Homo sapiens: one gene and its partners. Each later gene encodes a partner of the first gene's protein in a complex. Each region holds a gene or a part of one and is shown in the gene's direction. Other genes may lie near its edges.

Region 1 (9,907 bases):
CTCCCAAAGTGCTGGGATTACAGGCGTCAGCCACCGTGCCCGGCCTCTGTCTTTTTTTTTTTTTTTTTTTCGAGACAGGGTCTTGCTCTTTTGTCCAGGTTGCAGTGCAGTGGCACAATCATAGGTCACTGCAGCCTCGACCTCCTGGGCTCAGGTGATCCTCCTGCCTCTGCCTCCTAAGTAGCTAGGACTATAGGTGTGCTCCACCACACCTGGATAATTTTTTGTGTTTTGTAGAGATGGGGGTTTCACTATGTTACTTAGGCTGGTCTGGAACTCCTGGACTCCAGTGATCTTCCCACCATGGCCTCCCAAAATGCTAGGATTACAGGCATGAGCCATTGCTTCTGGCCCCAATTGCTTTCTTTTTCTTTCTTTCTTTTTTTTTTTTTTTGAGGCAGAGTCTCACTTTGTCGCCCAGGCTGGAGTGCAGTGGTATGATCTCGGTTCACTGCAACCTCTTCCTCCTGAGTTCAAGTGATTCTCCTGCCTCAGCCTCCCAAGTAGCTGGGACTACAGGTGCCTGCCACCATTCCCAGCTACTTTTTTGTATTTTTATTAAAGACGGGGTTTCACAATGTTGGTCAGCCTGGTCTCGAACTCTTTACCTCAAGTGATCTTCCCTCCTCGGCTTCCCAAAGTGCTGGGATTACAGGCGGGAGCCAACGCACCCGGCCGCTTTTACTATTCTTGCAACTTTTTTCATTTGACATTCCATCGAAATAAAAAGTTAAAAAAATTCTTTTTCTTCTGAGGGGGTGTTTTATCAAGGACACCTTTATCAAGGGTCCCGGGCCTAAAAATGTTAAGAACCCATGATTTACGGCTGAGGAGGCAACTTCCATCCAAAATCCTAAAAGTCAAGTTCCTGTGACCTGGCTTCCTGAACCTCCCCGCTCCTGCGCCCCCTGGAGGTCAGGGCTAGAACAACACGGCATTCCTATAATGCTCCAAATCGCCACAAATCGACCTTGGAAATCCTGGGTGAGTAACGCAGACTGCGCACATGGCTTCAATTAGCGGAACTAAAACTTGCTGAACATCGTGTACCCGCGTGTCCATGGCCAAACACAAACTCCACCTTTGTAAAAGTCTAGGTGAATTCCCAGCTGAATTCAGAAGCGTGACAGGAATGGGACTTTTCATTGGTGTCTTTTTCTTTTTTCTATTTTTAGAGTGGGGAGGAGTGTATTTCTGGATTGTTTAAATATTTACAATGAGCATGCATTTCCTTTGCAATTAAAAGAAAACCAGATTTTTTTTTTTTTTTTTTTGAGGCAGAATGTTGCTCTGTCCCCAGGCTGGAGTGCAGTGGCGCGATCTCGGCTCACTGCAACCTCTGCCTCCCGTGTTCAAGCAATTCTCCTGCCTCAGCCTCCTGAGTAGCTGGGACTACAAGTGCCCGCCACCACGCCCAGCTAATTTTTGTATTTTTAGTAGAGACGGGGTTTCACCATGTTAGCCAGGATAGTCTCAATCTCTTGAACTGGTGATCTGCCTGCCTCGGCTTCCCAAAGTGCTGGGATTACAGGCATGAGGACCGCACCCGGCCGAAAACCAGATTTTTAAAAATTGAAGTTTGCTGTAGAAAAATACTGTGGGAGAAAGTTGTGGGTGGTGTTTTGTAGAGTCGCAGAAGGACATGGGAAAAAAAAATTGAGTGTGTTTCTGTAATCATCATAACAATCACACTCATTGTGCCGTAGGCTCCAAGGGAGGGCTCTGAGCTGTGGTTACCAGATAAAATACAAGATTCTCAGGTAAAATGTGAAAAAAAAAATATTTTTGTGATCTTAACTCACTGCAGTCTTGATCTCCTGGGCTGAAGTGATCCTCCTGCCTCAGCCTCCCAGGTAGCTGGGACCACAGGCACGTGCCACCATGCCCAGCTAATTTTTAATTTATTTTGTTGAGATGGGATCTCACTATGTTGCCCAGGCTGCTCTCAAACTCCTGGCCTCAAGCGATCTTTCCTCGGTGTCCCCATGCCCTGGGATTACAGGTATGAAGCACCAGGCCCAACCCTGAAATTTAAAGTTAACTGGGCAGTCTGTAATGTGTTTTTGTTTGTGTAGGTGTGTGTGCTAAATCAGGCAACCCCCTATTCTGAGCAGAGGAGTGCTTTGATCTGACTTAGATTTTAATAGGCTCCCTCTGGTTGCTGGTGGAGATGAGACTACGGAGGGGGGGCAGTGAAGATCCCAGAGAGGAGGCTGCTGTAATGGTCCAAGCAGAAGGTGATAGTGATTTGGATCAGGGTAACAGAGCCGAGGTGGTGAGAGGTTGACAGGTCATGCATCTATTTCGAAGGAAAGGCCATGTCCAGGCTCCTTAGCTCGGCATTCAAGGCTTCTCTCCACCACTGGACACACTTACTCTCTAGCTTCTCAGACCCTGTTGCAGATAGAATCATGATCCCCAATGATGTCCACATCTTAATCCCCTGAACCTGTGAACAGGTGACCTTCCATGGCAAAAGGGACTTTGCAGATAGGATGAAGTTAAAGATCTTTAGATGGGGGAGCGATTATCCTGGATTGGGTCTGGGTGGGCTCAGTGGAATCACAAGAGTCCTTATATGAGGAAGATAGAAATTTGAGACATACGGTAGAGGAGGAGGTGATGAGACCACAGAGGCAGGGACGGGCGTGGTGCAACCACAAGCCAAGGAATTTCAGGAGCCACCTGAAGGTGGGAGAGGCAAGGAACAGATTCTCCCCTGGAACCTCTGGAGGGAGTGGTGACATCTTGATTTTGGACTTCTGGCCTGCAGAACCATGCCAAAATAATTGTCTGGCTTTTTTTTTCTTTTTTTTTCCTTGAGGTGGAGTCTTGCTTTGTCGCCCAGGCTGGAGTGCAGTGGTGCCATCTTGGCTCACTGCAACCTCCACCTCCCGGGTTCAAGTAATTCTTGTGCCTCAGCCTCCCGAGTAGCTGGGACTACAGGCATGCACCACCACACCCAGGTAATTTATGTATTTTTAGTAGAGATGGGGTTTTGCCATGTTGGCCAGGCTGGTCTTGAACTCTTGACCTCAATGATCTGCCCGCCTCAGCCTCCCAAAGTGCTGGGATTGCAGGCATGAGCCACTGCGCCCGGTCCTGGTGTTAAGCCCGCAGTTTGTGCTAATTGGTTACAGCAGCCTCGGGAAGGTAATCTAGGCTCCTTCCTTGCCCCAGGCTCTAGGAAGTATCTTAGCCCCCAGCCCTGGGCTGCAGACCTGTACCAGTCCATGGCCTGCTAGGAACCATGCAGCATCGCAGGAGGTGAGTGGCAGGTGAGTAAGTGAAGCTTCATCTGTATTTATAGCCACGCCCCTTCGCTCATATTACCGCCTGATCTGTCAGATCAGGGGCGGAATTACATTCTCATAAGAGCGTGAACCCAGGCCGGGCGCAGTGGCTCAAGCCTGTAATCCCAGCATTTTGGGAGGCTGAGGCGGGTGGATCACGAGGTCAGGAGTTCGAGATCAGCCTGGCCAAGATGGTGAAACCACGTCTCTACTAAAAATACAAAAATTAGCCGGGTGCAGTGGTAGGCACCTGTAGTCCCAGCTACTCGGGAGGCTGAGGCAGGAGAATCGCTTGAACCTGGGAGGCGGAGGTTGCAGTGTGCCGAGATCGTGCCACTGCACTCTAGCCTGGGTGAGAGAGTGAGACTCCATCTCAAAAAAAAAAAAAAAAAAAAAAAGAGCATGAACCCTGTTGTGAACAGCGCATGTGAGGGATCTGGGTTGCAAGCTCCTTATGAGAATCTAATGCCTGATGATCTGTCACTGTATCCCATCACCCCCAGATAGGACCATCTCGTTACAGGAAAACAAGCTCAGGGATTCCACTGATTCTACATTATGTTGAATTGTATAATTATTTCATTATATATTACAATGTAACAATAATAGATGGAGATGGTTGTGGCTTGTGTAGTTGGGGGACAGGGTAGCTCCATTTTCTATTGCCAACTTTATAACCCTAGAAGGATGATTTTTTTCTTTTCTTTTCTTTTTCTTTTCTTTTTTTTTTTTTTGAGATTGAGTCTTGGTGTTGTCAGCCTGGGCTGGAGTGCAATGGTGCAATCTCTGCTCACTGCAACCTCCGCCTCCTGGGTTCCAGCAATTCTCCTGCCTCAGCCTTCTGAGTAGCTGAGATTACAGGCACCCACCACCACGCCTGGCTAATTTTTGTATTTTTAGTAGAGATGGGGTTTCACCATATTGGCCAGGCTGGTGACGATGGTTTTTTTTTTTTGAGACAGAGTCTTGCTTTGTTGCCCAGGCTGGAGTGCAGTGGCGCAATCTTGGCTCACTGCAACCTCTGCCTCCCAGGTTTAAGCAATTCTCCTGCCTCAGCTTCCCAAGTAGCTGGGATTACAGGCACCTGCCACCACACCTGGGTAATTTTTGTATTTTTAGTAGAGACAGGGTTTCACCATGTTGGCCAGACTCGTCTTGAACTCCTGACCTCAAGTGATTCATTTGCCTCAGCCTCCCAAAGTGCTGGGATTATAGGTGTGAGCCATTGCACCTGGCCCTAGAAGGAAGATTTAACAGTAAAATATACTTAAATGCTGGGCTACCTCCGCAGACTAGCTCAGCCTCTTTGGGTCTCAAATCAGCCTGGCCGGGAGGCTGAGTGGAGGTTACAGTCTCTGCTTTCTTGAATCCCAAGGGAGGGGTTTAAGCCAACTGCATTCCTGAGCTTTTGCCCAGAAGGCTGGCGTCTTAGGAGGAAAGAGATAGATGGCTCCAGGCCGGGCGCAGTGGCTCACACTTGTAATTCTAGCACTTTGGGAGGTTGAGGTGGGTGATTGCCTGAGCTCAGGAGTTTGAGTCCAGCCTGGCCAACATGGCGAAACCCCGTCTTTACTAAAAATACAAAAAATTAGCCGGGGGTGGTGACACACACGTGTAATCCCAGCTACTCGGGAGGCTGAGGCAGGAGAAGTGCTTGAACCCAGGAGGCAGAGGTTACAGAGAGCCGAGATTGCACCACTCCACTGCAGCCTGGGCGACACAGCAAGACTCTATCAAAAAAAAAAAAAAAAAAATGAGAGAGAAGAGATGGCCCCAAATAGGGAAACCAAGGCCAGGAGAGGGGCCGAGCCTGCACAGGAGCTTCCTCGGTTTTCCGAGCGCCGGCCCCCCTTCTCTGCCTGGGAGGAGGTGGTTAGAGTCCCCTGGGTGTGTGCCCCGCAGAGGGAGCTCTGGCCTCAGTGCCCAGTGTGCAGACCAATGAGAGCCCCAGAGAGAAAGACGGTCATTTCCTCCCTGCATCTTCCCTTGGGGCTTTAAAAACCACAGCCCTTGGGCAGGAGGGACCTTCGATCCTCGGGGAGCCCAGGAGACCAGAACATGGTGAGTCTCGAAGGGGAATGGGAGCAGGAAACTTTGTCCTGGGTCCCTCCCATCTTTGCTCCAGTGGGTCCTTCTCTCTCCCCAACTCTCGCCGTCAACTCTGTCTGTCTCTCCCTTTCCTTCTCTCTCCCTGTCTTCCACCTCCCACCTTCCCTCTCTCCTGCATCCCAGGCTCTCACACTCCAGGGCTGGGATGTGGCCATGGGAATAAGATTGTCAAGATTGTGGGAGCAACAGCAACCTCGTGGGGCTGGGGCCCGAGAAGATTCCCCAGGGGAGGGGACCCTTGAGTTGGGTCTAGTAAGGTGACTAAGAATTCCACAAGCAGCCGAGCGCAGTGGGTCACACCTGTGATCCCAGCACATTGGGGATTGTGCCAAGGCGGGAGGATTGCTTGAGGCCAGGAGTTCAAGACCAGCCTGGCCAACATAGTGAGACCCTGTCTGTATTTTTTTTTTTATTTAAAGAATTCCACAAGTGAAGAAATCTAGAACAGGCCTTCCAGGCAGTGGGAATGGCAGAGAAAATGTTGGGAGGCTGGAAAGAACCAGTTTGGAGGAATGGTCAAGTTACTCAGATGCTCTTGCAGATAGATGTTCTTTTCTTTTTCGACTTGGGGTCTTGCACTGTTGCCCAGGCTGGAGTGCAGTGGCACCATCATAGCTCACTGCAGTCTTGAACTCTTGGGCTCAAGTGATCCTCCCTCTTTAGCCTCCTGAGTATCTGGGACCACAGGCATGCACCACTATGTCCGGCTAATTTTTAAAATTTTTATTCTTGTAGAGATGGGTTCTTGCTATGTTGTCAGGGCTGGTCTCAAATTCCTGGCCTCAAGCCATCCTCCCACCTTGGTCTCCCAAAGCTCTGGGATTACTGGCATGAGGCCATTATGCCTGGTCGTTTGAGATGTTCTGCATGACAGAGATGGGGAAACTGAGGCCCAGGCAGGAGCAGAGATGGATGGGGACCCTCCATGGTTGGTGGCAGAAGCAGGTTATGCCATGGATTCTGTGAGTGTCAGAAGGAATGCACCCCAGGCTAAATGAGGGTCCCTGTCATCCCTGCGTCTGGAGGCCTGGGCACTGAGCCAGCAGAGCTGCGATTCAGCACCTGCTGTAACACAGGCATTGCCTTGCTTCATCTGTGTCAAAGAGGAAACGGAAGATGGTTTGGATGGACCAGGGAGGGGTCTGATGTTGCTTCATTCCTGCATTCCACCCTTGAGATCCGACTTGGGCAAACGGGACTCTCTGATTCTTCTTCTTCTTTTTTTTTTTCTTTCCAAAACATTTTCCAAAGTACCAAATGATACTTGGTAAAAACTCATTCTCGGCCAGGCGCGGTGGCTCATGCGTGTAATCCCAGCACTTTGGGAGACTGAGGCGGGCGGATCACAAGGTCAGGAGATTGAGACCATCCTGGCCAACATGGTGAAACTCCGTCTCTACCAAAACTACAAAAATTAGCTGGGCATATAAGCGGGCGCCTGTAGTCCCAGCACTTGAGAGGCTGAGGCACGACAATCGCTTGAACCCATGAGGCAGAGGTTGCAGTGAGCCGAGATTGCTCTACTGCACTCCAGCCTGGCAACAGGGCCATCTCAAAAAACAAACATAGAAAAAAAAAAACTCATTCTCCCTGCCTACCCCAGAGCCTCTGACTCCTTTTCTTTCCTTTTATTTTGAGACAGAGTTTCACTCTTGTCGCCCAGGCTGGAGTGCAATGGCACGATCTTGGCTCACCACAACCTCTGCCTCGCGGCTTCAAGCAATTCTCCTGCCTCAGCCTCCCGACTAGGTGGGATTACAGGCATGCGCCACCACGCCTGGCTAATTTTTTGTCTTTTTAGTAGAGACGGAGTTTCACCATGTTGGCCAGGCTGGTCTTGAACTCCTGACCTCACGTGATCCACCCACATTGGTCTCCCAAAGTGCTGGGATTACAGGTATGAGCCACCCTACCTGGCCCTCTGACTCCTTTTCATTGCCTCCTACCCTACCTGGGGCAACCATGGGATGCCAGTTTGTGGTGGATCCTTCCAGAAACAGTTTACAGATGCCTGAGAGCACAGATGCTTAGGGAACAAAGTAAGGACTAGTGTGATGCGGGGAACCCCAAAACCGAGCTCAGCTTCTGTCTCTACTATGAAATAGTTGCGGAGATCTGTCCTCTCCGTGCTTCTGTCTCCTTATCTTTTTGTTTTTTGAGACAGTGTCTTGCTCTGTTGCCCAGGCTAGAGTGCAGTGGTGTGATCTCAGCTCACTGTAACCTCCACCTCCTGGGTTCAAGTGATTCTCCTGCCTCAGCCTCCCAGGTAGCTGGGACTACAGGTGCCTGCCACCATGCCTGGCTAATTTTTGTATTTTTAGTAGAGACGGGGTTTCACCGTGTTGGCCAGGCTGGTCTTGAACTCCTGGCCCCAAGCAATCTTCCCGCCTTGGCCTCCCAAAGTGCTGGGATTACAGGCGTGAGCCATCGCACCCAGCCTCCTTCTCCTTATCTTTAAGGTGAAGATAATACTAGAATCTACATCATAGGCTAGTTGAGAGAATTGACTGAGTGAATGCATGAAAAGTTCTTGTAGCAGTGCCTGGTATACAGTTGGCGCTCAATGTGGGTGACATTTCTATCCTTTCCCAGCCTTATAAATGGCAGTATGTTTTGTACAGTACTCTACATCTGGCTTTTTTAAATGAATAACATATAGTATTATTAACTAGCATTTATTGAGTGCTTACTGCATACCAGGCGTTGTATTAGGCATTCATTAATTTCCCCTTAACCTTGAGGAAGGTACTTCATTCCCGTGTAGTTCAAGGGAGTTGCCTCCTCCTCCTCCTCCTTTTTTTCTTTTTTCTAGACAGGGTCTACTGAGGTCTTCCACCTCAGCCTCCTGAGTAGGTGGGACTACAGGTGCATGCCACCACACCCAGCTAGATTTAAAATTTTTTGTAGAGGTGGGGTCTTGCTATGTTGCCCAGCCTGGTGCTTCTTTCTTTCTTTTATCAGCTGAGTAATATGCTAGTAGGAGGTTTCATCCCCTTCAATGGAAATTTAGTTTGCTTCTAATATTTGGTCTGTTTTGTTTTGTTTTGAGACAGAGTCTCGCTCTGTCACCCAGCCTGGAGGGCAGTGGTGCAGTCTTGGCTCACTGCACCTCTGCCTCCTGGATTCTGGTGATTCTCCTGCCTCGGCCTCCCAAGTAGCTGGTATCACAGGTGCGTGCCACCACACACGGCTAATTTTTGTATTTTATTTTAGTAGAGACGGGATTTCACCATGTTGGCCAGGCTGGTCTCGAACTCCTGACCTCGTGATCCACCCGCCTCAGCCTCCCAAAGTGCTGGGATTATAGGCGTGAGCCACCGCGCCTGGCGTCCAGCCACATTCTTTAACTCAGCATCTGCAGACCTTCCAGTCCTATCTTGGCCGCCTGCCAGCCATGCTGACCTTTCGTTTCTGCTGTGCACCACCTGCCCTTCCTCTCTCCTTTCTGCCTAGAATGCATGCCCCCCCACTCCCAATGCACTTTAGGCCTGCCTGGTAGCCACTCAAACAGAGGGCTCTGGGCTGGGCGCGGTGGCTCATGCCTGTAATCCCAGCACTTTGGGAGGCTGAGGTGGGTGGATCACGAGGTCAGGAGATCAAGACTATCCTGGCTAACACGGTGAAACCCTGTCTCTACTAAAAATAAAATTAGCCAGGCATGGTGGCGGGCACCTGTAGTCCCAGCTACTCGGGAGGCTGAGGCTAGCAAATGGTGTGAATCCAGGAGGCGGAGCTTGCAGTGAGCTGAGATCGCGCCACTGCACTCCAGCCTGGGGACAGAGCGAGATTCCGTCTCATAAAAAAAAAAAAGAGAGAGAGGGCTCTGGGGCTCAGCTCTCAGGAGTTTCTCTCCTGTCTCTGTTCTTGCTAACCGAGAAGACTTGGAGAGGTCTGTTCATTTCTCTGTAGCCTCATTTTTCTCTTCTGGAAAATGAGTGTTGCTGTTGCAACAAGTAAGTCTCCTAGGGTTGCTTTGTGGGTTCAATGAGATAATACACGAGAAAGGCTCAGGACAGCCTGGCAATGATTATGGCTGTTCTTGTAGGTACTGCGCCTTCTCCTTCACCCTGTTCTCATCCGATCGTTCACATCTTGCGGCCAGCACCCTTGTCTAAGCCACCGTCATGCCTCACGTCACCTGGACAGTTCCAATCTCCGTTTCCTCCCAGCTTCTGCTCTCTGCCCCTTTCTCCATGCAACAGACAAGGGTTGTTCCTCTAATGAGCATGTGAATTTAGGAAGAATAATAGTACCCTGCCCTTTGTGCTATTGTCACATAGATATGCACTGTGATTAGGAAATTACTAAGCCAACACCTGGGAAGCACATGGAATAGTGCCGGGCAATTAGAACCCCCAGAGTGGCCCTGGACCTGCACTGCCCAATATGTGGGCCACGTGCCACAATGCAGCTACCTACGTTTATTTTTCACTATTTTATTTTATTTTACTTTATTTATTTTATTTTTGAGATGGAGTTTTGCTCTTGTTGCCCAGGCTGGAGTA
Region 2 (10,608 bases), on another chromosome or scaffold:
TCAATTATCCCTGTCACCTTAATCTCTTTCTTTTTCCTATTTTGTTCTTATTCTTGGATCTGACAAAACAGAAAGAAAAATGCACTATAATTATGAGCACATGATGTGCCTGGAACTGTGTTATGAGTTACCTTACTTAACACAACACTTCTAATATCTCCAGTGTTGAAGAAGAAACTGAGGTTTACAAATTCCAAAGTAGAAAAAATTCCCTCCACCTGAATGGCCTGCACAGCTCTATAGGATCTGGTTCCTGCCTACCTTGCAGCCCTCGCCTCCCTGATCTCCTACCTCTCTCATCTCCACTTCAGTCAAACTAACCTTTGAGTTCCTTGATCAAGTCAACTTCCATTCCACCCTAGGGCTGTTGCCCTTGTATTCAACATTGAAAGGCACTGGAATCTTCTTCCTCCAAACATGGTTCCTTCTAGCCATCTGGTTCTCTGCTCAAACGTTGTCACCTCATTAGAGTAATCTTCATGAATGTTCAGTTGAAAGTACCTATCTTTCCCTCAGAGTAACTCCTTGTTGTGGCCACGAAGGTGCACCATTCAGATGACCCTTTAAGGGAGCATAGTTGGCTGATAGCCTCCAACTGCCCCATCTTTAGATCTATTGCAGTGTTCTCACTTAGGCCTGAGGCTCTCTCTTCCAAGGCTGCCCTGAGCCTGTGACTGAGTAAGATAGGGGTACTAGACCCAGCCCACTTCACCACTTCCGCCCAGTACGGGACTTCCCTAATGAACAATATCTACTCAGGACTGGGTTGTGGGACAGAGATCTCATCAGGTTGGCCAAGACTTTCTTCAAGCTGCACCATAACCTGTCCCAAACTCCCTCTTTCCTTCTCTCCTTGTCCAGGTGTCAGAGCTGCATCACATTTGAAGTGCTCCCCAGCTACTCCTGCTCCTACTCTCTCTTATCCTTCACAGAATCTTCTCCCAATCTCTTGTTTGTCTAATTCTGTCTTGACGTCTGCTTCTCAGAAGACCTGAACTGGTGCACTCTCTTGTAAAACACTGCTTCATTACTTTCATAGCATTTATAACTATTTTTATTTTATCCAATTAAATTGATCCACTTATGTATTTATTTAATATCTCCCTCCTACCACTGCCACCATCTCCTCGTCAATGTAATCTGTCTTATTCATCACCTTATTCCCAGTGCTAAGAACACCACCTGGCTTATAATAGGTCTTCAGTTAATATTGTTGAATAAATGAATTAATGGATTTAGAAAGCTAGATTTATACTTTAGATCCAGAGGCTCCTCTTTATTCAATTACTGCGGGTTTTACTGTTCTAGGTCTTGGACATAAAACAGTAAGCAAGAAAGACAAAGTCTCTGCTCTTTTGAATTTATATTCAAGGGAGGGAAGACAGGTAATAAACACATAATCACAAATATATATATGCTATGTGATAAGAGATATAAAGAAATTATAGTGTGTAATAAGGGAATAAAGAGTGGTTGTTGAGTAGTTAGGAAAGATATCTCTCTGATAAGATTACATTTGAACAGAGATTTGGATGAAATAAGGGAGTGAGTCAAGCAGATACCTGGCTCAAGAGTGTTCCAGGCAGGGGGAGCATAAATGCCAAGGCCAATGATGGAGTGTGTTTGGCAAGTTCAAACAGTCTGGAGGTCAGGGAGGCTGAACCAGACAACAAGGAGAATGGCAGAAAATACTATGGGGAGGCACATGGTTAAAAAAAAGGGTAAGTCCTTGTATGCCATCATAAGGATTTTAGATGAGATTTTCCTCTAAGTGAGATGGAAAGTGAATGGATAGTTCTCCCTGACATTTTAAAAGGATGCATCTGGCTGCTAGGTGGGAACAGTAAGCGATTAAGGTAAAAGTAGAGGGAGCAGAAAGCAGGTTATTTAATATTTGATAAATATCTCCAGTGTCTATCAGTAAAGATGGCGATATTTGGCCAAGTTCTGGTTATATTTGAAGACAAAGTTAGTAGGATTTCCTAACAGATTGAATAACTAAGGCTTGCAGGAAAGGAAAGAATCTAGGATGACTCCAAGTATTTGGCCTGAGCAAACAGAAATGTGGAGTTGTTGATTACCGTGTTTTCCTCTGTTCAAGCTCAGCTGAACAGGTATAGTCATACAGAGGCAGAGTAGATTTAACCAGATTTGAAGTTTTTCCTGTTGAATACAATGGTGGGAGTGTTTTGAGGATATTGCAAAGGAATAATTGTCCTGATGGAAGATGGGATATAAGTTGCATAAGGAGAGACATTAGCACATGCAGCACACGACAGAAAGAGAAAAGGCATGTGGTCGGTAGATGGAAGGTCTCTGTGGGACTGGAGAATTGATGGTAATAACGTAACAGAGGGTGAGATGAAAAGGTCTGAAGTGGTGGTCAGAAAGTAGGGTGGCCATATTTTTTCCTTTGTCCCATAACTGTATCAGTCTGTTCTTATGCTGCTAATAAAGACATACCCAAGACTGGGCAATTTATAAAGGAAAGAGGTTTAATTGACTCACAGTTCAGCATGGCTAGGGAGGCCTCACAATCATGGTGGAAGGCAAAGGAGGAGCAAAGTCACGTCTTACATGGCAGCAGGCAAGAAAGCTTATGCAGGAAAACTCCTACTTATAAAACCATTGGCTCTCATGAGACTTATTCACTACCAGGAGAACAGTATGGGGGAATTTGACCTCATGATTCAATTATCTCCACCTGGTCCCACCCTTGACATGTGGGGATTATTACAATTTAACCTGAGATTTAGTTGGGATCACAGTGAAACCATATCAATAGCAATCCTTTTTTCTCAGTTGAATAATATTTGAGAAGAGTTACAAGTGAAATGAAACAAATTCCAAACCTACCTCTCCAACTACCATCCCATGTGTCAACCCCTCTCCATGGTTAAGATTCTTGAAAAAGTCTCCTTATTCAGCTTCTGCATTCTCCATGTTTACTTCTTAATTCCATATGGTAAGTCTCCCATTCACAACATAGCAAGGCAAAATTTTGTTTGCTACAGGTTTCAACACCACCTTGAAGCCAGCTAAAAAAGTCTATTCCTTTTGATTTATGACATCTCTTCAGTCATATCTTCTCATTCCTACATTAAATATCCCCCAATTTCTTCAATTATTCCTTATGACATAGTTTGTAGCTACTTTGAAAACCTGAGGCTCTCAGCTGAATGTGTTCTAATTTGTCTTTTAACATATGTCTCTAACTCTCTTAACATATAATGTTCAGTATTATTCAGAAATAAGAAGAAATAAAGTACTGGTGGATGCTACATGGATGAACCCTGAAAACTTTATGCTAACTGAAGGCAGCCAGTCACAAAATACTGTACACTATATGATTCCTTTTATATAAAATGTCAGAATAGGCAAATCTAAAGAGACAGAAATTAGATTAGCGGTTGTCTAGATCTGGGGAAAGATAAAGGATTGGAGATGATGGCTAAGGAATGCAGAGCTTCTTTTTGTGGTGATGAAAATATTCTACAATTGATTGTAATCATGGTTGCACAACTCTGTGAATATACTGAAAGCCACTGAAGTGTACACTTTAAATAGGCAAATTCTATGGCATATGACTTATATCTCAAAAAAGCTTGAACCCGAGGGAAAAAAAAAAAAAAGCTGTTAAAAAACAAACATGATGTTGAAAAGAAAAAACAGTATTCTGAAGTAGAGTGCTTTAACCTCTATAATTTCAATTTCACTCTGTATAAAAGAGATAAATAAATAATATCTGCTTCATCTCCTTGACAAGGTTGAATCATATTTTGCAACATCATAATTACATAAGTTATTAGCTTGAGTGACTCTCACCACCTCACATTTGGATTACTAACACAATTCACTTGCTGGTACCCATTTGTTTTACATGTAGTGGTAAGAGGGTTTTTTTATTTCTTTGCTTTTTAACATCTAGTACCCAACTCAGGAAAGAATGTAAGGAGCACTTTGTACCCACTGTATCAAGTCCAACCCTTCACCTTAGCATTTAAAGCTGTCTTCCAACTTTGTCCCATACATCCCATCATTCTTCACACCAACTTTGTCCCACACATCCTATCATTCTTCACAACCAAACAACTTTCAGTTATAAAACCATTGTTTTCTCTTTCACGTATCTTGCATATTAACTGTTTAGCTGGTTATTCCCCTCAAACAAAATATACCCTATTATGGCCTGAATGTCTCCAAAGCCCTAACCCACAATACGATGGTATTTGGAGATGGAACCTTTGGGAGGTAATTAGATTTGGATGAGGTCTTGAGAGTGGGGCCTTTAAGACAGGGCCTTTATAAGAAGAGGAGAGACCAGACTGCTTTCAAGCTCTCTCTCTCTTGCTCTGCCATGTGAGGACGCAGCAAGAAAGAGGCCATCTGCAAGGCAGCAGCAGAACCCTCACTGAGGAACTGAATAAACTGGCACCTTAATCTTAGGTTTACCAGCTTCCAGAACGGTGAGAAATATATTCCTATTGTTTCAGCCACTCAGGCTATGGTATTTTTAGGGCAGCCTGAACTAATACATACTTCTTTAAACTCCCCACCAATATCCTGTTATCATTTCCTTCAAACGTTTTTTCAAAACTTTCTTATCTTAGAATTTCCCCCCATACTGATCAGTTCATTACTCTGCATTCTCTTAGGAATTGTGCTACATATAAATCTAATTTGCTGTTCTTATTCGTTTATGTATCACATTTTAACTCACCTATTTGACTAACTTCAAAGGATGGAAGTAATGTTACCTATTTGACAAACTTCTGTTACACATACTTCATTTCTCCGAAACACAAGTTTTGTAGTCATTTCTACCAATATTCAGCCAGCACTGCTTCTTCTTTTGCTGAAACTGTTGGTTCCACACTCTGGTCCGAACTTAATAGGAAAGACTCACCATAAAAGATAATTAAGAATGGCTAATACACAGTGTGTTGAAATTTGATTTCCTTAAGTTTAATTCCAGAGTTCTGATACACATTAGCATTTAGAGTGCCTAGAATTACAGTGTAGAAGGTGACTAAGTACATTTAAAGATTGTTCCTTTTTGTTGTTATATTACAAAAGATTATAGTTGAGGCAGATCTTGAAATTGCATCTCATCAGCCCAGCAGGTGGTGTGACTCCCATAGGAGAACAGGAAAGGACATGTCCCATAAGGAGGCAACTCAGTCTCTGCTAGCTCACAAGCGTGGTCTCAGTGACCTACTCGAAAGCTATTCTGCTTGTATCATCAGTTCAGCCTCACCTTGGAAAACTCAAGCCCAGTTTTCCCAAATGATTTTTAGAGAATAAGATTTCCAGATGAAAACCAGGGAGCATGTTCCAATTTTTAGTACATCAAGGACCATGTTTTTCCTTGCTACCAGCCCCATTTTCTAATCAGTTAACGCTTCCTGTGATATCTGTAGGGGAAAGGTGTAGTGCAACTGACAGGGAGAGATGAGATCTTAAGCCTCTGCTCATTCATTGGGTGCTGAGTAGCAATGCCTCCCGCGGGCCACAGGAACTTATCTCCGCCGATTGTTACAGCTGGAAGGATGGGGAGATAGCACCATAGATCCACTCCTCATTTTATGGGCAAAGAAGCTAAGGCCTGTAAAAATGGCATGCCCAATGGTACAGGAGTTACAAACACGGTCATAAATATTGGCTCCAAATTTGGCATGGAAGCTTATGTGCTGCTCTAGAGGAGATCTGCTACGATGTGGAGATTGGCTTGTGTGGGTGTGTTTTATTGCTCTTGTCATTTAAAAATACTTTTGATTATTTGTCTTCCATTTTTTTTAGGTTACGAGGAAATCCTTCAAAATGCGTTCTTGTGAAAAACGTGAGAGTGCAAGGAAAGAGGGAGGGATAGGAAGAAGGAAAGAGAAGCAAAAGGTAGGAAGAAAGTGACCTTGGTGCCCTTTTCTAGTCCCCTCCCCCGACTTTCCTGTTCTCCACTGTGCCCATCTCTGGTTTCACCAGGCTCCATTCCTTCCCCAGTTCCCTGTTTCTCACGGCCCTGAAACCAGCCGACAGGGATTTGCATTTTGAAAAACCTTGCGTGGCTGCCGGCGCTGGGCATGCTCAAACGCCCAGAACTGGCTTTTTTCGGCAACTTTGGCAGCTCTCCCACCCCCACCCGAAGGGGCAGGTACGCACAGCTCCCTCCGTGTGAGTAAACGGAAAGAAATTACCCCACTCCCGCCCAGGGCAGAAGGCCACAGCCCCGCGGGGCAGTGGCGCGCCCCGGGGACGCTGCCAGGGGGCGCCAGGCCCTCAGTGGTGGCGCGGCGCCGGGGTCCGGGGCCGGGGGGCGCTGTCCGAGGGCACGTGCGCGGGCGCGCGCTCTGGGAGTGGTCGCGGGGTGGTGGGAGGGGCGGGCAGGGGCGGGGCCGCGGCGGCGCGCGGAGGCCGAGCTCGGCTGGGCTTGGCGAGGCTGCGGCGCGGCCACCGGCGGGAGTGCAGCGGCCACTGTACCCAGAGATTCAAAACCCCAAACCCGGGACTTGGGGGCGCTGAGCCGGGCCGGGAAGCAGAGCCTGGTCGTGAGGAACAGCCGCCCGTTGCTGTCTGCCCCTTTGCGGACAGCGTCTCCCTCGACTCCGCTTAGGAAGTGGTGGGGGCGGCGTGGCCCCCGTCGGGAGGCGTTCGAACGCCCGCTAGGAGAGAGAAAGGATTCCCCTGTGCTTGGAGCCCGCACTCGGGCGCGGAGGGAGCGGCGGCAGGCTCTCGCTTTCGGCACCATGGGCTGCACGCTGAGCGCCGAGGACAAGGCGGCGGTGGAGCGGAGTAAGATGATCGACCGCAACCTCCGTGAGGACGGCGAGAAGGCGGCGCGCGAGGTCAAGCTGCTGCTGCTCGGTAAGGGCGGCCGGGTCGGGGCCCGGGGGTCGGCGGGGGACCGGGTGCGGCGCTGCGCGGCCCTCGGCGTTTGGAAACCCGGAGGGAAGGGGGAGGAAGCGCCCGAGGAGGCTTCTGAGCGGGAGCTGGGTCCGGCGGTGCGGAGGCAAGGCGGGTCCCCCTCTCCCGGTGTCTGGTCTCTCTCCGCCCCGGCGGGCGAGGACTCCCCGCGGCGGGGCGGGCGCGTCACTTCACTCGGATGCTTTCGTGCGACCCAGCAAAGAGCCCAGGCGCGAGTCCGAGGCGGCGGGTCGCGTGGAAACCCTTTGCTTTGAAGTTTAGCTCAGCCTTGTAAAGATGAAGGGGCATTCGCGGCTAGAAAATGAAAACACCCCCCCCCCCGCGCCACCAACCCCCTCCCGGAAAACCCTTCTTCGTGTGCGGTGTAGGTTGTGTTTCGACTGTGGTTTTCTCATGCCCAGAGTGCCACGTTTGGTGAAATCAGTGCACCTTTTGTGGGGCCTCTGAGATGGGGCTGAAGCGTCTTTCCTGTTAACTTCCTATGGCGACTCCTTAAGTGGTCAAGGAGCGCTGATTACATTCCCCCTGCGCTGAGAAAAGGCTGCGCTGGATGCTTGATTTTTCTTGCTGTGGGGGCATGGAAGCCACCCAAGTGGGGTTGGGAAGCTTTGCTTTAGTAGTAGGCAAGGCAGATACTCGAGTGGTGAAAACTGCTGTGAAAGAGCGAGAGGGTCACGCCAGACAACAGGGTTCTGTCTCCGCTGCCACCGTTTCTGATGAATGAGATTTGCCAGGTACACGCAAGGCTTTTATTTGTTCTTAGCACTGTTCTGTTCGTGAAACGCTACGTGGAGGTCTTTTCCAAATGTTTGACGGGGAAGAAAATAAAGAGTAAACCAGGGTTTTCACTGAGGGAAGCATTAGGAAAATCTTTACAGGTTAAGATTCGTGAGTTAGGGTTTTCTTTTGTTTGCATGTTTTCTTCTCACACTCTAGGTATTTAGATAGATGAAAAATTTCTCAGAATCTTCATTTGCATTTCCAAGGACTGCTTGTATTTTTATACCAGTTATAATAAAAAAGAAATGTTGCACAAACCTGTTTTCAGTAAGCTTCTGTTTCATTGGTTTAATGACTGCAGAAAAAATGGTGGGTTTTTTTTCTCCATTACTAGTAGGCTTGGGAGCAGCAAAGTTGGCATGACTAAAAGTAATAATGATCTGAGTCATTTTGCAAGTAAACTGTGAAATAACTTTGCATTTTAAAGACCTGGGTGGCTTTTTTCACCCTGTCGCCCCCAACATAAATCTTTCTCAGTTAATGTTGTTTGCCTAAGTTTTTACATTAATAAGAAATACTGTGTTTTGATGAGGTTAGTGTATGTACTTCTCTTGTGAATTGAATGTGAGATAGATATGAAATAAGAGGATTAAGAAGTTTTTTTCTTGCAGTTTTTGCTCTCCTGGTGTGATACGTTGTTTCAGTGTATTTCTGTGTGACTCTTAGTTTGAGCCAGCCATCCACCATGTTTAAAGCAATTGAAAAATGAATCATCTGGTGGTGGTGTTTTGTCCTTTAATTAGGTGACTGTTAGGGATGGACTAGAATAAAGGTCCCAGGAGTAGGCTTTTGCTTATGTTCAGAAGAGATCAGTGTGTCTTGATCTTAGCACGGTTGGCATTTGGGGCTGGGTAATTCTTTGTTCTCCAGGTTGTTTTTGTGCATTGTAGGATGTTCAGCAGCATCTTTGGCCTCCGCTCATTGGATGCTAGTAGCAGCCCCCTAACCTGTGAGCTCCAAAAGTGTTTCCACATATTGCTAGAAGTCCTCTGGGGGCAAAATACAGCGTTAGTTAAGGACCACTGTTCTAGATTAAGACTTAAATATAACTGAATGTATAATACAGAACCAGAAGTTGAATCTTGACAGTCATCATAAGTGAGTTCAGAGAAAGATGTAGCAGAGGCCTCATTTTCAGAAGAAATTATGGAATTCTTATTTCTTTTTCTTTTTTCTTTTTTTTTTTTTCTTTTCTTTTCTTTTTTTTTTTTTTTTTTTTTGAGACGGAGTCTTGCGCAGTCGCCCAGGCTGGAGTGCAGTGGCCCGATCTCGGCTCACTGCAACCTTCACCTCCTGGGTTCAAGCGATTCTCCAGCCTCAGCCTCCCGAGTACCCGGGACTACAGGTGCGTGCCACCATGCTCGGCTAATTTTGTATTTTTAGTAGAGACCGGGTTTCACCATGTTGGCCACGCTGGTCTCCAATTCCTGACCTCAGGTGATCCGCCCGCCTCAGCCTCCCGAAGTTCTGGGATTACAGGCGTGAGCCACCTTGCCCGGCCAGAATTCTTATTTCTCTAAACCAGTACTGGTACCATTGGAAATATTTCAGAATGATTTTTAGAAATCTTTAAGTGACTGAATTCTTTTGGCTGTCTTTTCTAGCTTTGGTCTTTTGCTTTTCCCTACCTCTCTCCTCTCTGGAAATCCTGGCTGTCCCTGCTGGCCCAGCACTCTCCTCTGTCTTATCCCCGTTCTAGTCTACCCTTTTGCCCAGAGTTCCATCACCCTAGTCCTGTAAACAGAATTCTGGCTTACTTATTCCAGAAATTCAATTCTTGGAATGTTCGAAAACATTGTTTTCCTAATTTGACTTTAGTAGTAAATTGTGACCTTTTGGTTCTTTTTTGAATCCTTAAAGCATATGTGTAAGCAGCTAAATGAAATAATTCCATGTAAAACACGGCAGTAGAATAAACTAGAAATGTAAAATCGTTTCTAGGTAACGTATAACCAGTGTCACAGCCATTTACATTAGATCGTGTTCATCTTCACTTATTCTGTTTTTCTCATCACATGATGTTTTTTAAATTTAAGGCATAAAATCTCTAAAGTACTTTTAAGACAGTCTGTTAAATATATTGCATTTTTTTCTTAAGGAATGTATTGTCATTTTAAACAGCTGGGCTGAGTAATTTAGATATGAGACTTGCACACTATTAGTAAAGATTTTGGCACTGTCTATATGATTTAAATCAGAGGTATTTCACTATACTGAGCAGTGAATTAGGCCTTAAAAAAAGAGGAGCTAGTCTAATCATTGACACTAAGGAAATCAGGCCAGAGTTTGGGTTGTTTGTCTTTTAGGTTTAGTTTTTATGCTTATTAGGATGATAATACTTAATAGAGAAACATTTTAAAGAAGTAAGTAATAATGAAAGTTTTTTATATAATAATGTCTAATTGTTGAGGAAATTATTTTTTATTGTTATATCTTTGAGAATGTTTTAATTTATCATCCTTTTAAGGGCAGTAAGATTAAGCTTATGCTTTATTTCGGTAGGTAACTATAGTATACTACTTGTACTTATGAAATATTATTTTATTATGTATTTGGAGGACATAAGATTTGACATACAAATAAATGATCATGAATTTATTTTCTGTTCCAAAGCTTTGAGCAGTATTCTCATTTATTCCACCTCACTGTCCTTCCTTCCGCTCCACTCCCCCTCATATACAAAATTCCACACCCTTGTCTCCTTCTTCAGCTTGGTTTAAATATTCCAGGTTTGGGGGAAAATGAGCTGAGGGATTGGATTTCTTCTGTTTGGTGGATATTTTTCTATTGCTGCCACCAGGCAGCCCTTTGGGATGCTGCATCATTAATCTTCACTCCTTTTGAACTTGCCCTGTGACTTCCCCTAGTTGAGAAATGTTGGCTATGCAGGGCTTTTGATTTTTCATTGCT
Region 3 (7,985 bases), on another chromosome or scaffold:
ATGACATCTCTTATCCCTAAAATTATAAATAAGAAAACTAATTTTTCATGAATTCTACAAAATAACAAAATGGGACACAAAATTGAGCAAAAAATTTTCTGACGGGAATGTCAAAAACACCTGGCAAACACTCTTCTCACAAGCTGGCATAGGCCTATAAATCTCCCATTTGTTTGTTTAAAATCTGTATCATTTCATTTTTCAGAGCCTTACTTGAAGACAAGCCATTACCTTTTTGAACTCATCCAATCCTAAGCATTTTCTAGAATAATCAAGTAAAAAAAATTCTACCACAAAAATAAAAAAGTCTCAGAGGTGGGAAGAGCTTTGTCACATTGTCTGATTTAGCCCTTGCTAAATCAGCCCTTGTTTAGTTAACAAATATTGAAACTGATGACTTATGGGCAGTGGGCCATCCTTGACCTTTGGGGATATATACAAAGTAATAAGACAACTCTGTCCCCTAAAAGGAGTTTACAGTTTACTAATGTTTTCCCAAAGTACCTGAGTACTTAGGGAGAAGGTATGAATGTAAAAATGAAGATTCCTAAGCTTAGCCTCAAACTTACTGATTCAGAAATTCTAGGGATTAAACCCAGAAATCTGCTCTTTAAAAAGCATCTTGGGTAATTCTTGTGCACAACATTTGAGAACCACCACTCTGGTAGGTCTGAGAGATGTGCACAAGTATGAGTTAGGGAAATGCTGAATAGAAGACTCATCTTTTAGGGACATAAAAAAATTGATCAGCACCTTCCCTCATTAATGCCAGATACAAACTGGAAAAAAAAGAAAAGTCATCTCTTAGCCAAAACCAGACATTCTTCTAAATCATATTCACCACTAAGTTGGATTGTGAGTTATCAATTTTATAACAGAAACACTTAGTGCAGAAACCCAAAATTTCTAGTGACCTACCATTCTCCCTAAAATGCCTAATTCACTGCGTGCATGGGCTCACACCTGTAATCCCAGCACTTTGGGAAGCCGAGGCTGGCAGATCACTTGAGGTCAGGAGTTGGAGACCAGCCTGGCCAACATGGTGAAACCCTGTCTCTACTAAAAATACAAAAAAAAGTAGCTGGGCATGGGCGCTCACCTGTAATTCCAGCTACTCGCGAGGCTGAGGCATGAGAATCTCTTGAACCTGGGAGGCGGAGGTTCCTGTGAGCCAAGATTGCGCCACTGCACTCCAGCCTGGGCAACAGAGTGAGATTCCGTCTCAAAAATAATAATAATAATAATAATAATAATAATAATAATAATAATAAAATGACTAATTCACTGGATATTTAGTTTCATTTAGGTTATGAACCACATATTTTAGCCTATTTTCTTCCCGTGAGAGTAGTATTCATAAGCAATTTTCATAGTTTTTTTCCCTTTCACAGAAATACAAAAAAACTACTAAACATAAAAAAATGTTGAATTTAGAAACATTTGAGGTATCTGGGCTTTAAGAAAGTAAGCTCTTAACAGAATTAACTGGCACATACAGATTCTGCACAAGACCAAACTCTGTACACAGAAAAATCACCTGGGGAGTGGCTATCAATGCAAATGGCTGAAGAATCTGAGTTGGTAAAAGTAAGATGGATAACTGAATTTTTAACAAGCACCCCAGCTAATTCTAATGTAAATTGTTTTGAGAAAACATTCCAGAATTTTCAAGATTTCAAGATTCCAAGCTCATGACATCCCAACCTGTCTTCATGTCTAAATCAATATATTAAACACAGTAGACTGCCAATGCATACATATTTAAATAATTAAAGTAATTTTATATTTAATTAAAGTATAAAAGGGAACAAACAGGGGAAGTCAGTTTACCTAATCAGAGCCCACATTCTGTAAGTCAGAGCTGGGGAATCTTATTGATATAATGAATTGCCCTCCAGATCCAGGAGCCACATGCAGTAAAGGGCTTTGCCGTTGTTTCTTTTAGAGAGTATATAAAATACTCTGATTACCTACTTATAAAATTAAAAATATACTGAATGATGTATGTGTGTAGCAAAGGGAATGGCTGAGGTTGGAGGGAGAGTTATTCTCTGGACATCAACAATAATCTGAGAAATAAAATTCTGAGGATCATATAAAATAAAACCAAATAGAATCTGTCCTTGGTCTAAGCATCTCCCACTGCTGATGTTAGGATAGTAATTTCCTCATTCCCACAGGAATTAATTGTGAACAATTAAACACGTGGTATTATCTAATTACTAATAATTCACAGAGAACTGAGAGATTCTTATCCTCACGTCCTTTGGGGGAACCTGAATATGAGTGGGTTCTGGGGTTGTATGCTTTCTGTAAGTCTGGGAAGCACACTTTATATGTGCATATAGCATGCAGTTTCTCAGATAGTCCACAAACATGTGAAAGGAGCACTGGCTTACTACTTACAGGTAGTAGTAAGGAGAATAACTGTTCGTGACCCTAAACAGTGGCTCAGCTTCTTCAGCTATAAAATGGGTACTCAGGTTGATCTGTATTCATGGTCCAGGTTCTTTGCACTCAGCCATGATGCTTCCCACGCCATGTGCTTAACTGAGGTTTATGTGGGAGGATCACATGAGACAATTTTTGTAAAAGTGCTCTGTAAGCTGTAAAGCACTATACAGATGAAGCGGATTATTATTAGTCTTTTACGAAGCCCAGCGATAAAGATGCAAAGTGACCCAGAAAAAGAAAACTGAGTAGACAAACCTGAAATACAACATCTATAGCCCCTAGAACAGTTACCCTGTACATGGTAGGTAGGTGCTTAATAAGTAGAGTGAGTAAAGAAAAACGCAAAACAGGTTTGTGCCTCCATCATACTAGGTCTGATACCAAGAAGAAATAAATATACCTAAGGTCAATGATAGTTTCATTCAACCATACAAACCCAAATAATCCAAGAGCCTAAGATTTTAAATTAAAAATTACTTCAAAGAAAGAGCATGGAAACGTGAAATGTGACCCGGAATCCGCAATTAAATCGGTATATTCTTACCTCTTCAGTCTTTCCAACGCAGTCTTGCAGGGATACAGGACCTGGGTGAGGGTGTGGAGTGCTTCCCTGCACCTGGTAGATCTACATAACTGTTCCTAGCAACCTCTTGAGGAAATAATACATTCTATAGAATGTTGGGTACCTAAGCTCTCTGTTTTGGATTTGAAAGGCTGCGTTTTAGTGATTTTTAAGCCAAACAAGATTTATCCCATAACAGCCCCCCAAAAACACGCACAGAAAAGAAGAATGAGAGGGGCGGGTAGGTAGAGAAGCAGTTATTCACTTTATAAAACAATTCTCTATAGGATTCTTTTGTCAGTTTCCTAGACTATGTAAAATGTGATTCAAATTAAAATATTTAAATCACATACCCACATCTTGACATGGGCAGCTATTTGTAAAATGAGGCAAACCCACACTGGGAAATACCAAATTAAAAAAAAATCAGGGAAAAAATATTTTCTTCTGGGTGGCCCTAAACTGCTTTCTTTTTCCCCATTGCAAATGTATTTTTATGCTGGGTTACATTTCCAAAACAGGAGTGTTTTTTTTCTATCGTTGAAATGAAACAAACAAGTTTGCTTTCAGAGCTACAGAAATGCCCAACTGTTAGGAAAAAAAAAACAAAAAACCGTTTTCCACTGGCCGCTTGCCTCTCTTATCCCCATGCAACCTTGCCTATTGGCCCCTTTCCCTAGGAGAGCCCCTGGGGCTGTCTGATGGAACTGATTGTAAAACTATTTTGTGCAGTAAAAAAGTCGTTTCTTCAAAATCTGAGACCACCCAGAACATGCCCAATCTTTGGCAAATATCGACTGGTTTCCTCAGTATTTGACTAGCTGTACACCGAGTAACTGTCCCGGGTTTCTGGGTCTTTATCTGAGAAGAAATGAGGGGGAAATGTTTCAGAAGATGAAAAAAGGAAGAAAACCTCTCATCCAAAATCTGTTCAAAATTCATTTTGTGCGTTTCGAAGGGGGAGGACAGGAGAATTTAGTGCAAAGACGGCCTCCACCAAACGAAACCGTCCAACATTTGCAAAAGCTTTTAAAATAAACTGCTCAGGGATCAGGGGTTTGCTGGAAACTCCCGGTCGCTTGAAGCCCTGTCCCTCCACTCCGGGCACCCTGGCCTCCCCAGGGTGGGCACCCCTCCTGCACGGAGAGCGGCGGCTGGGATCTCGGAGCAGGGTCGGCTATGGCCCTGGAGGCAGCGGCTCACAGAGAAAAAGCTCTGGCTTTTCTCCGCCCGCTGCGTTCCTCTTCTTACAGCCTCGGGTGTCACATATTAGGTGCTCAATAAATGTGGACATAGGAAACGAAAAGTCCGAATCTGTCCTTACGCCCCCAAGGCGAATTCTGGGGCGCGCGGGTTTATTCCGACCCACTACCACATCGCGTTTCCTGAGGTAACCCGGCCTCGGCTCTGCGGCCCCAGCGGCTGGAGAGCCACGGAGAAGGCGGGCTACGGGCGACAAGATGGAGAGCCGGCCCGAGAGGGACAGAGGCCGCGCTGGCAGCGAGCTGGGGGGCCCACCTGACCGTCCTGCGGGCAGCCCGGCCCCGCGCTCCCATTGACAAGGAGGTCCGCGCCGCCGGCGCGTGGGGCGGGGGCGGAGGCGGGGTGGGGCGCCCCGGCGCGCGCCCGGCCCCACTCCCCGCCCCCGCCAGTCCCGCAAGCACCCACCCCGGGGGAGCCGCGGGCCGGGAGGGCGCTGGGGGGAGGGGCAGGCCGCTCCGCGAGCGCGTGTGCGCGCCGCCGCCGGCTGACGCGAACTCCGGCGCGCGCCTCCCCCGCCCCGCGCCCTCCCCGTCCCGGGGGCCCGGCGCGCGGCCCTGCTGACGTCAGCTGGCGGCCCGCGGAGCCGGGTGCGCAGAGCCGCTGGCGCACTCGCGCGCTGCGCTGGCCTCCTCCCCGCCCCGGGCCCAGGCGCGCGCGCGCTTGTTCGCTCTCCCATTTTTTTTTTCCCCTCCCTCCCTGCCTCTCTCTCTCTCCCTCTCCCTCGAGCTCCCGGCTGGCTGCGGCTCCCTGGCGCTCTCCCTCTCTCTCCGGTAGGCTCACCGAGCGATGCGAGCTCTGGGAGACAGCGACGCCGCCTCCCGCTAGAGACCTGCCCCTCGGCCCGGCCCCCTGCCCAACCCTGCCCAGCGCGCGGGGGTCGGCGAAGGCGCCGCGGACGCACCGACGGCTGAAGAGCGGCGATGCACATGCACTAGCAGCACCCCCTAACTCACTCCCTCCACATCCCGCGCCGCCGCCGCCGCCTCCTCCACCTCCTCCTCCGCCGCCGCCGCCTCCTCCTCCTCCGGCAGCCGCGGCAGCAGGACCCACCCTGCCCCCCACCCCACCCTCTGTCGGCTCCGGCTGCGGCTCCAGCCTCGACTATTATTTTATTTATTTTGGGTCGTGCACAAGCCTCAGTGCCTGCAGTCCGCGCCTCCTCGGCCCGCGGGCGCCTCCTCCCTTGGCTCCGGAGCCCCAGACCCCGGCCACCCTCGATTCGACAACCCCAGACCCCTGCCAGCTGCCGCGAGTCTCCGCTGCTGGAATCTTGTTAGCGGCTGTCTTTTTGGAGGGTTCTGGTTTCCCGACATTTTTGTTTCCAGCCCAGGAGAGGATATCGTGATTTTCCCCCCTTGAGCCCAGGCTCTGCTCTCTGGGGGGGTGGGGGGCGCTCCAAGCCGGGGAGCCGTGCCAGCCGAGTCGTGCGGGCTGTGGCAGGGAAGGGGCCACCATGGGATGTACTCTGAGCGCAGAGGAGAGAGCCGCCCTCGAGCGGAGCAAGGCGATTGAGAAAAACCTCAAAGAGGATGGCATCAGCGCCGCCAAAGACGTGAAATTACTCCTGCTCGGTAAGGACCGCCGCTGCTACCCCCATCCCCCGACCCCGGCCACTCCGCACCCCCTGCCACCAGCTCCCCCACCCCACTCGCGCCCGGGAGACCTGGTCCCCAAGTTGGCACCACCATGTGCCCAGGATCGCCCACCCCCTCGCATGCCTTAGTCCCCCCCTCCCCCTGTTCCCTTAAGCTGACACTCACCAGTTTTTCCCCACTGTCTGTGTCCCAACAGGGGCTGGAGAATCAGGAAAAAGCACCATTGTGAAGCAGATGAAGTAAGTCCCTGTGGCATTGGGATTCGTACTTTTATTAAGAATAATTTTTAAATCGTTTTTATTACATTGCTTACTCCACATTGCTCTCCAGGCCTGTTTTTTAATTCGTGCACACACACACACACACACACACACCCCTATATTTGACTCCCCTCCCCCACTCCCTACGTTGGTTCTGGGTCCTCCACCCTAACTCCTGGGTGGGTGTTTTTTGGGAGGGGGAAGGGGAGCGCCTGTAGTTGTATGAATGACAGTGTCCGCCATATTGATCAGAACATCACACTATTGGCATGATTATGATCATTACTCTTGCTTGTGGAATATTTTCTGTGTCTCACTGCCTCCATTTCTGTCTGTGTCTCTGTTTCATTCTGTCTCTATTTCTTTCTCCTCTTCCCTCCATACCTCCCTATCCCCCAAGGTCCGTAATCCCACTTCCCCCTGCTCTTTTCCTGGGGCAGTGATTTTGAACTTGGCTAACATGGAGGGGACCCAGCCCTAGACTGGGGTGGAGGATCAAGTGTCTGCTGTTCATGCGTTTGGTGCTGAATTGGAGGCTGTGGTTTCTACATCCCCTCGCACCCCCTCCCCCGCAAAAAAAGAGGGCCAGGGTTAGGGGAGGGGTCGTGTGCTAGGGGAAGGAGTGGGTTTCCAAACGTAGGTGACGGGCACAGTTTTATCCAAGGTAGAGGTGGAAGGGGGAGGGAAGCTGCCTGTGAGGCTGAATGTCCGCCCCTTGCTGCCCCCAGCTCCTCTCCTCCCCCACCCTCCCAGCATTGCTCTCCTGACACCCGCAGTTTTCGTTCGCTCCGTGGCCTTTATCAGTGTATTTATTTACACTCTGCATAGGCCGTGTTCCATGTAATCTACCCACAATGCGGATTTCAGGCCCCACTTGCCGCCGCCCCCTTCTGCCTTAGCTATCAGTTTCCCCTCCTAATTAACTGGGGGTGGATTTGAGTGATGGTTGAAAATTAAAACAAAATGGGATATTCCTTCCCTTCCACACTTTCTCAATAAGGAGCCTCGCCCCTCCTTTCCACTTGCAGGCTCGCTTCTTGCCCTATCCACTCGGCAGTTCCTGGTGATCCCACAGGCAGGTTTGCTTGGGGAGGGGGTGGCCGGCAGCGAAGGGGTGTGCGCCCTCCGGGCCTCCTGTTTCGGTTGGCCTGTCAGTTCGAGACGGAGGAGTTCGTTTAGACCGTTTAGCGAAGATTCCACGTCGCTTTGCTGTGACACCTTCGTGCACACACAGCTCCTAATTAGGGGTTGCTGTGCAGTAAACAAAAATGATTATTTTTCAACTTGACACAATAGCCGAAATAATTGCATCGCGTAGGGAAACAATGGAAAATAAAAACCCCTTTCGTGGGAAGGTGGGAGTGGGAGACGAAGCATGCTTGCGGTTTCAGAACCAAGATGCAAAAAATCTTGGATGTGTAACAGGCATGACAAGCGGGTTCTAGGCGGCGCCATGATGGTAGGGAGTAGCGACTCGGAGACAATTTTCCCATCTGCTTGACATGTTCTTATTTTTATTCGAGAGCTCCCTGGGGCTTTCTTCGCAGAGCCCCCCTTGGCTCGCCGCACCCTTCTGAGCCAGGGGTAATTTAGCTTGGGGCTTCTCTTGAGCTTGTGCAACCCAAATTGATGGGGAGGCGGGGCCTGGGGAATTGCCCTTTGCAACAAGGTGCATGTTGCATCTGTCTGGAGCCCTTGCAGATCTGTAAATGCAAGCCGCGCCACCCCTTTCTCCCGAGGGGGGACGTTTTAAAACTTCAGAAGTCTGTAATCAGCAGTGGCGGACTCGGAGCCCAGTAGAAGCCCCAGCCACCTGAGCTGGATGAGGTTTCAGGCGTTGCAAGTGGTGGA

The links.
Region 2: the proteins of C5AR1 (region 1) and GNAI1 are in contact, whole or in part, in a cryo-EM structure (PDB 8HK5), measured with the Homo sapiens proteins. Residues at the interface, in NP_001727.2 of Homo sapiens: Asn71, Arg134, Leu137, Val138, Pro141, Ile142, Cys144, Gln145, Asn146, Phe147, Arg148, Ala150, Thr229, Arg232, Arg233, Ala234, Thr235, Arg236, Ser237, Lys239, Thr240, Val243, Val244, Ala303, Gln305; in NP_002060.4 of Homo sapiens: Arg24 (codon at 6,810), Ala31 (codon at 6,831), Arg32 (codon at 6,834), Glu33 (codon at 6,837), Val34 (codon at 6,840), Lys192, Asp193, Leu194, His195, Lys314, Glu318, Tyr320, Phe336, Thr340, Asp341, Ile343, Ile344, Lys345, Asn347, Leu348, Lys349, Asp350, Cys351, Gly352, Leu353, Phe354.
Region 3: the proteins of C5AR1 (region 1) and GNAO1 are in contact, whole or in part, in a cryo-EM structure (PDB 8JZP), measured with the Homo sapiens proteins. Residues at the interface, in NP_001727.2 of Homo sapiens: Asn71, Phe75, Arg134, Leu137, Val138, Pro141, Ile142, Gln145, Ile225, Thr229, Arg233, Ala234, Thr235, Arg236, Ser237, Lys239, Thr240, Val243, Val244, Ala303, Gln305, Phe307; in NP_066268.1 of Homo sapiens: Ala31 (codon at 5,823), Lys32 (codon at 5,826), Lys193, Asn194, Leu195, Glu318, Tyr320, Phe336, Thr340, Asp341, Ile343, Ile344, Ala345, Asn347, Leu348, Arg349, Gly350, Cys351, Gly352, Leu353, Tyr354.

The regions. Positions count from the first base shown.
Region 1 is NC_000019.10:47,304,545-47,314,451, forward strand, and holds the start of C5AR1 (C5a anaphylatoxin chemotactic receptor 1), read left to right. Parts: upstream 1-5,316; 5' UTR 5,317-5,351; coding exon 5,352-5,354; intron 5,355-9,907.
Region 2 is NC_000007.14:80,128,421-80,139,028, forward strand, and holds the start of GNAI1 (guanine nucleotide-binding protein G(i) subunit alpha-1), read left to right. Parts: upstream 1-6,410; 5' UTR 6,411-6,740; coding exon 6,741-6,858; intron 6,859-7,363; exon of another isoform or gene 7,364-7,652; intron 7,653-10,608. UniProt on the Homo sapiens protein: Guanine nucleotide-binding proteins (G proteins) function as transducers downstream of G protein-coupled receptors (GPCRs) in numerous signaling cascades.
Region 3 is NC_000016.10:56,186,504-56,194,488, forward strand, and holds the start of GNAO1 (guanine nucleotide-binding protein G(o) subunit alpha), read left to right. Parts: upstream 1-4,985; 5' UTR 4,986-5,732; coding exon 5,733-5,850; intron 5,851-6,051; exon of another isoform or gene 6,052-6,070; coding exon 6,071-6,113; exon of another isoform or gene 6,114-7,985. UniProt on the Homo sapiens protein: Guanine nucleotide-binding proteins (G proteins) function as transducers downstream of G protein-coupled receptors (GPCRs) in numerous signaling cascades.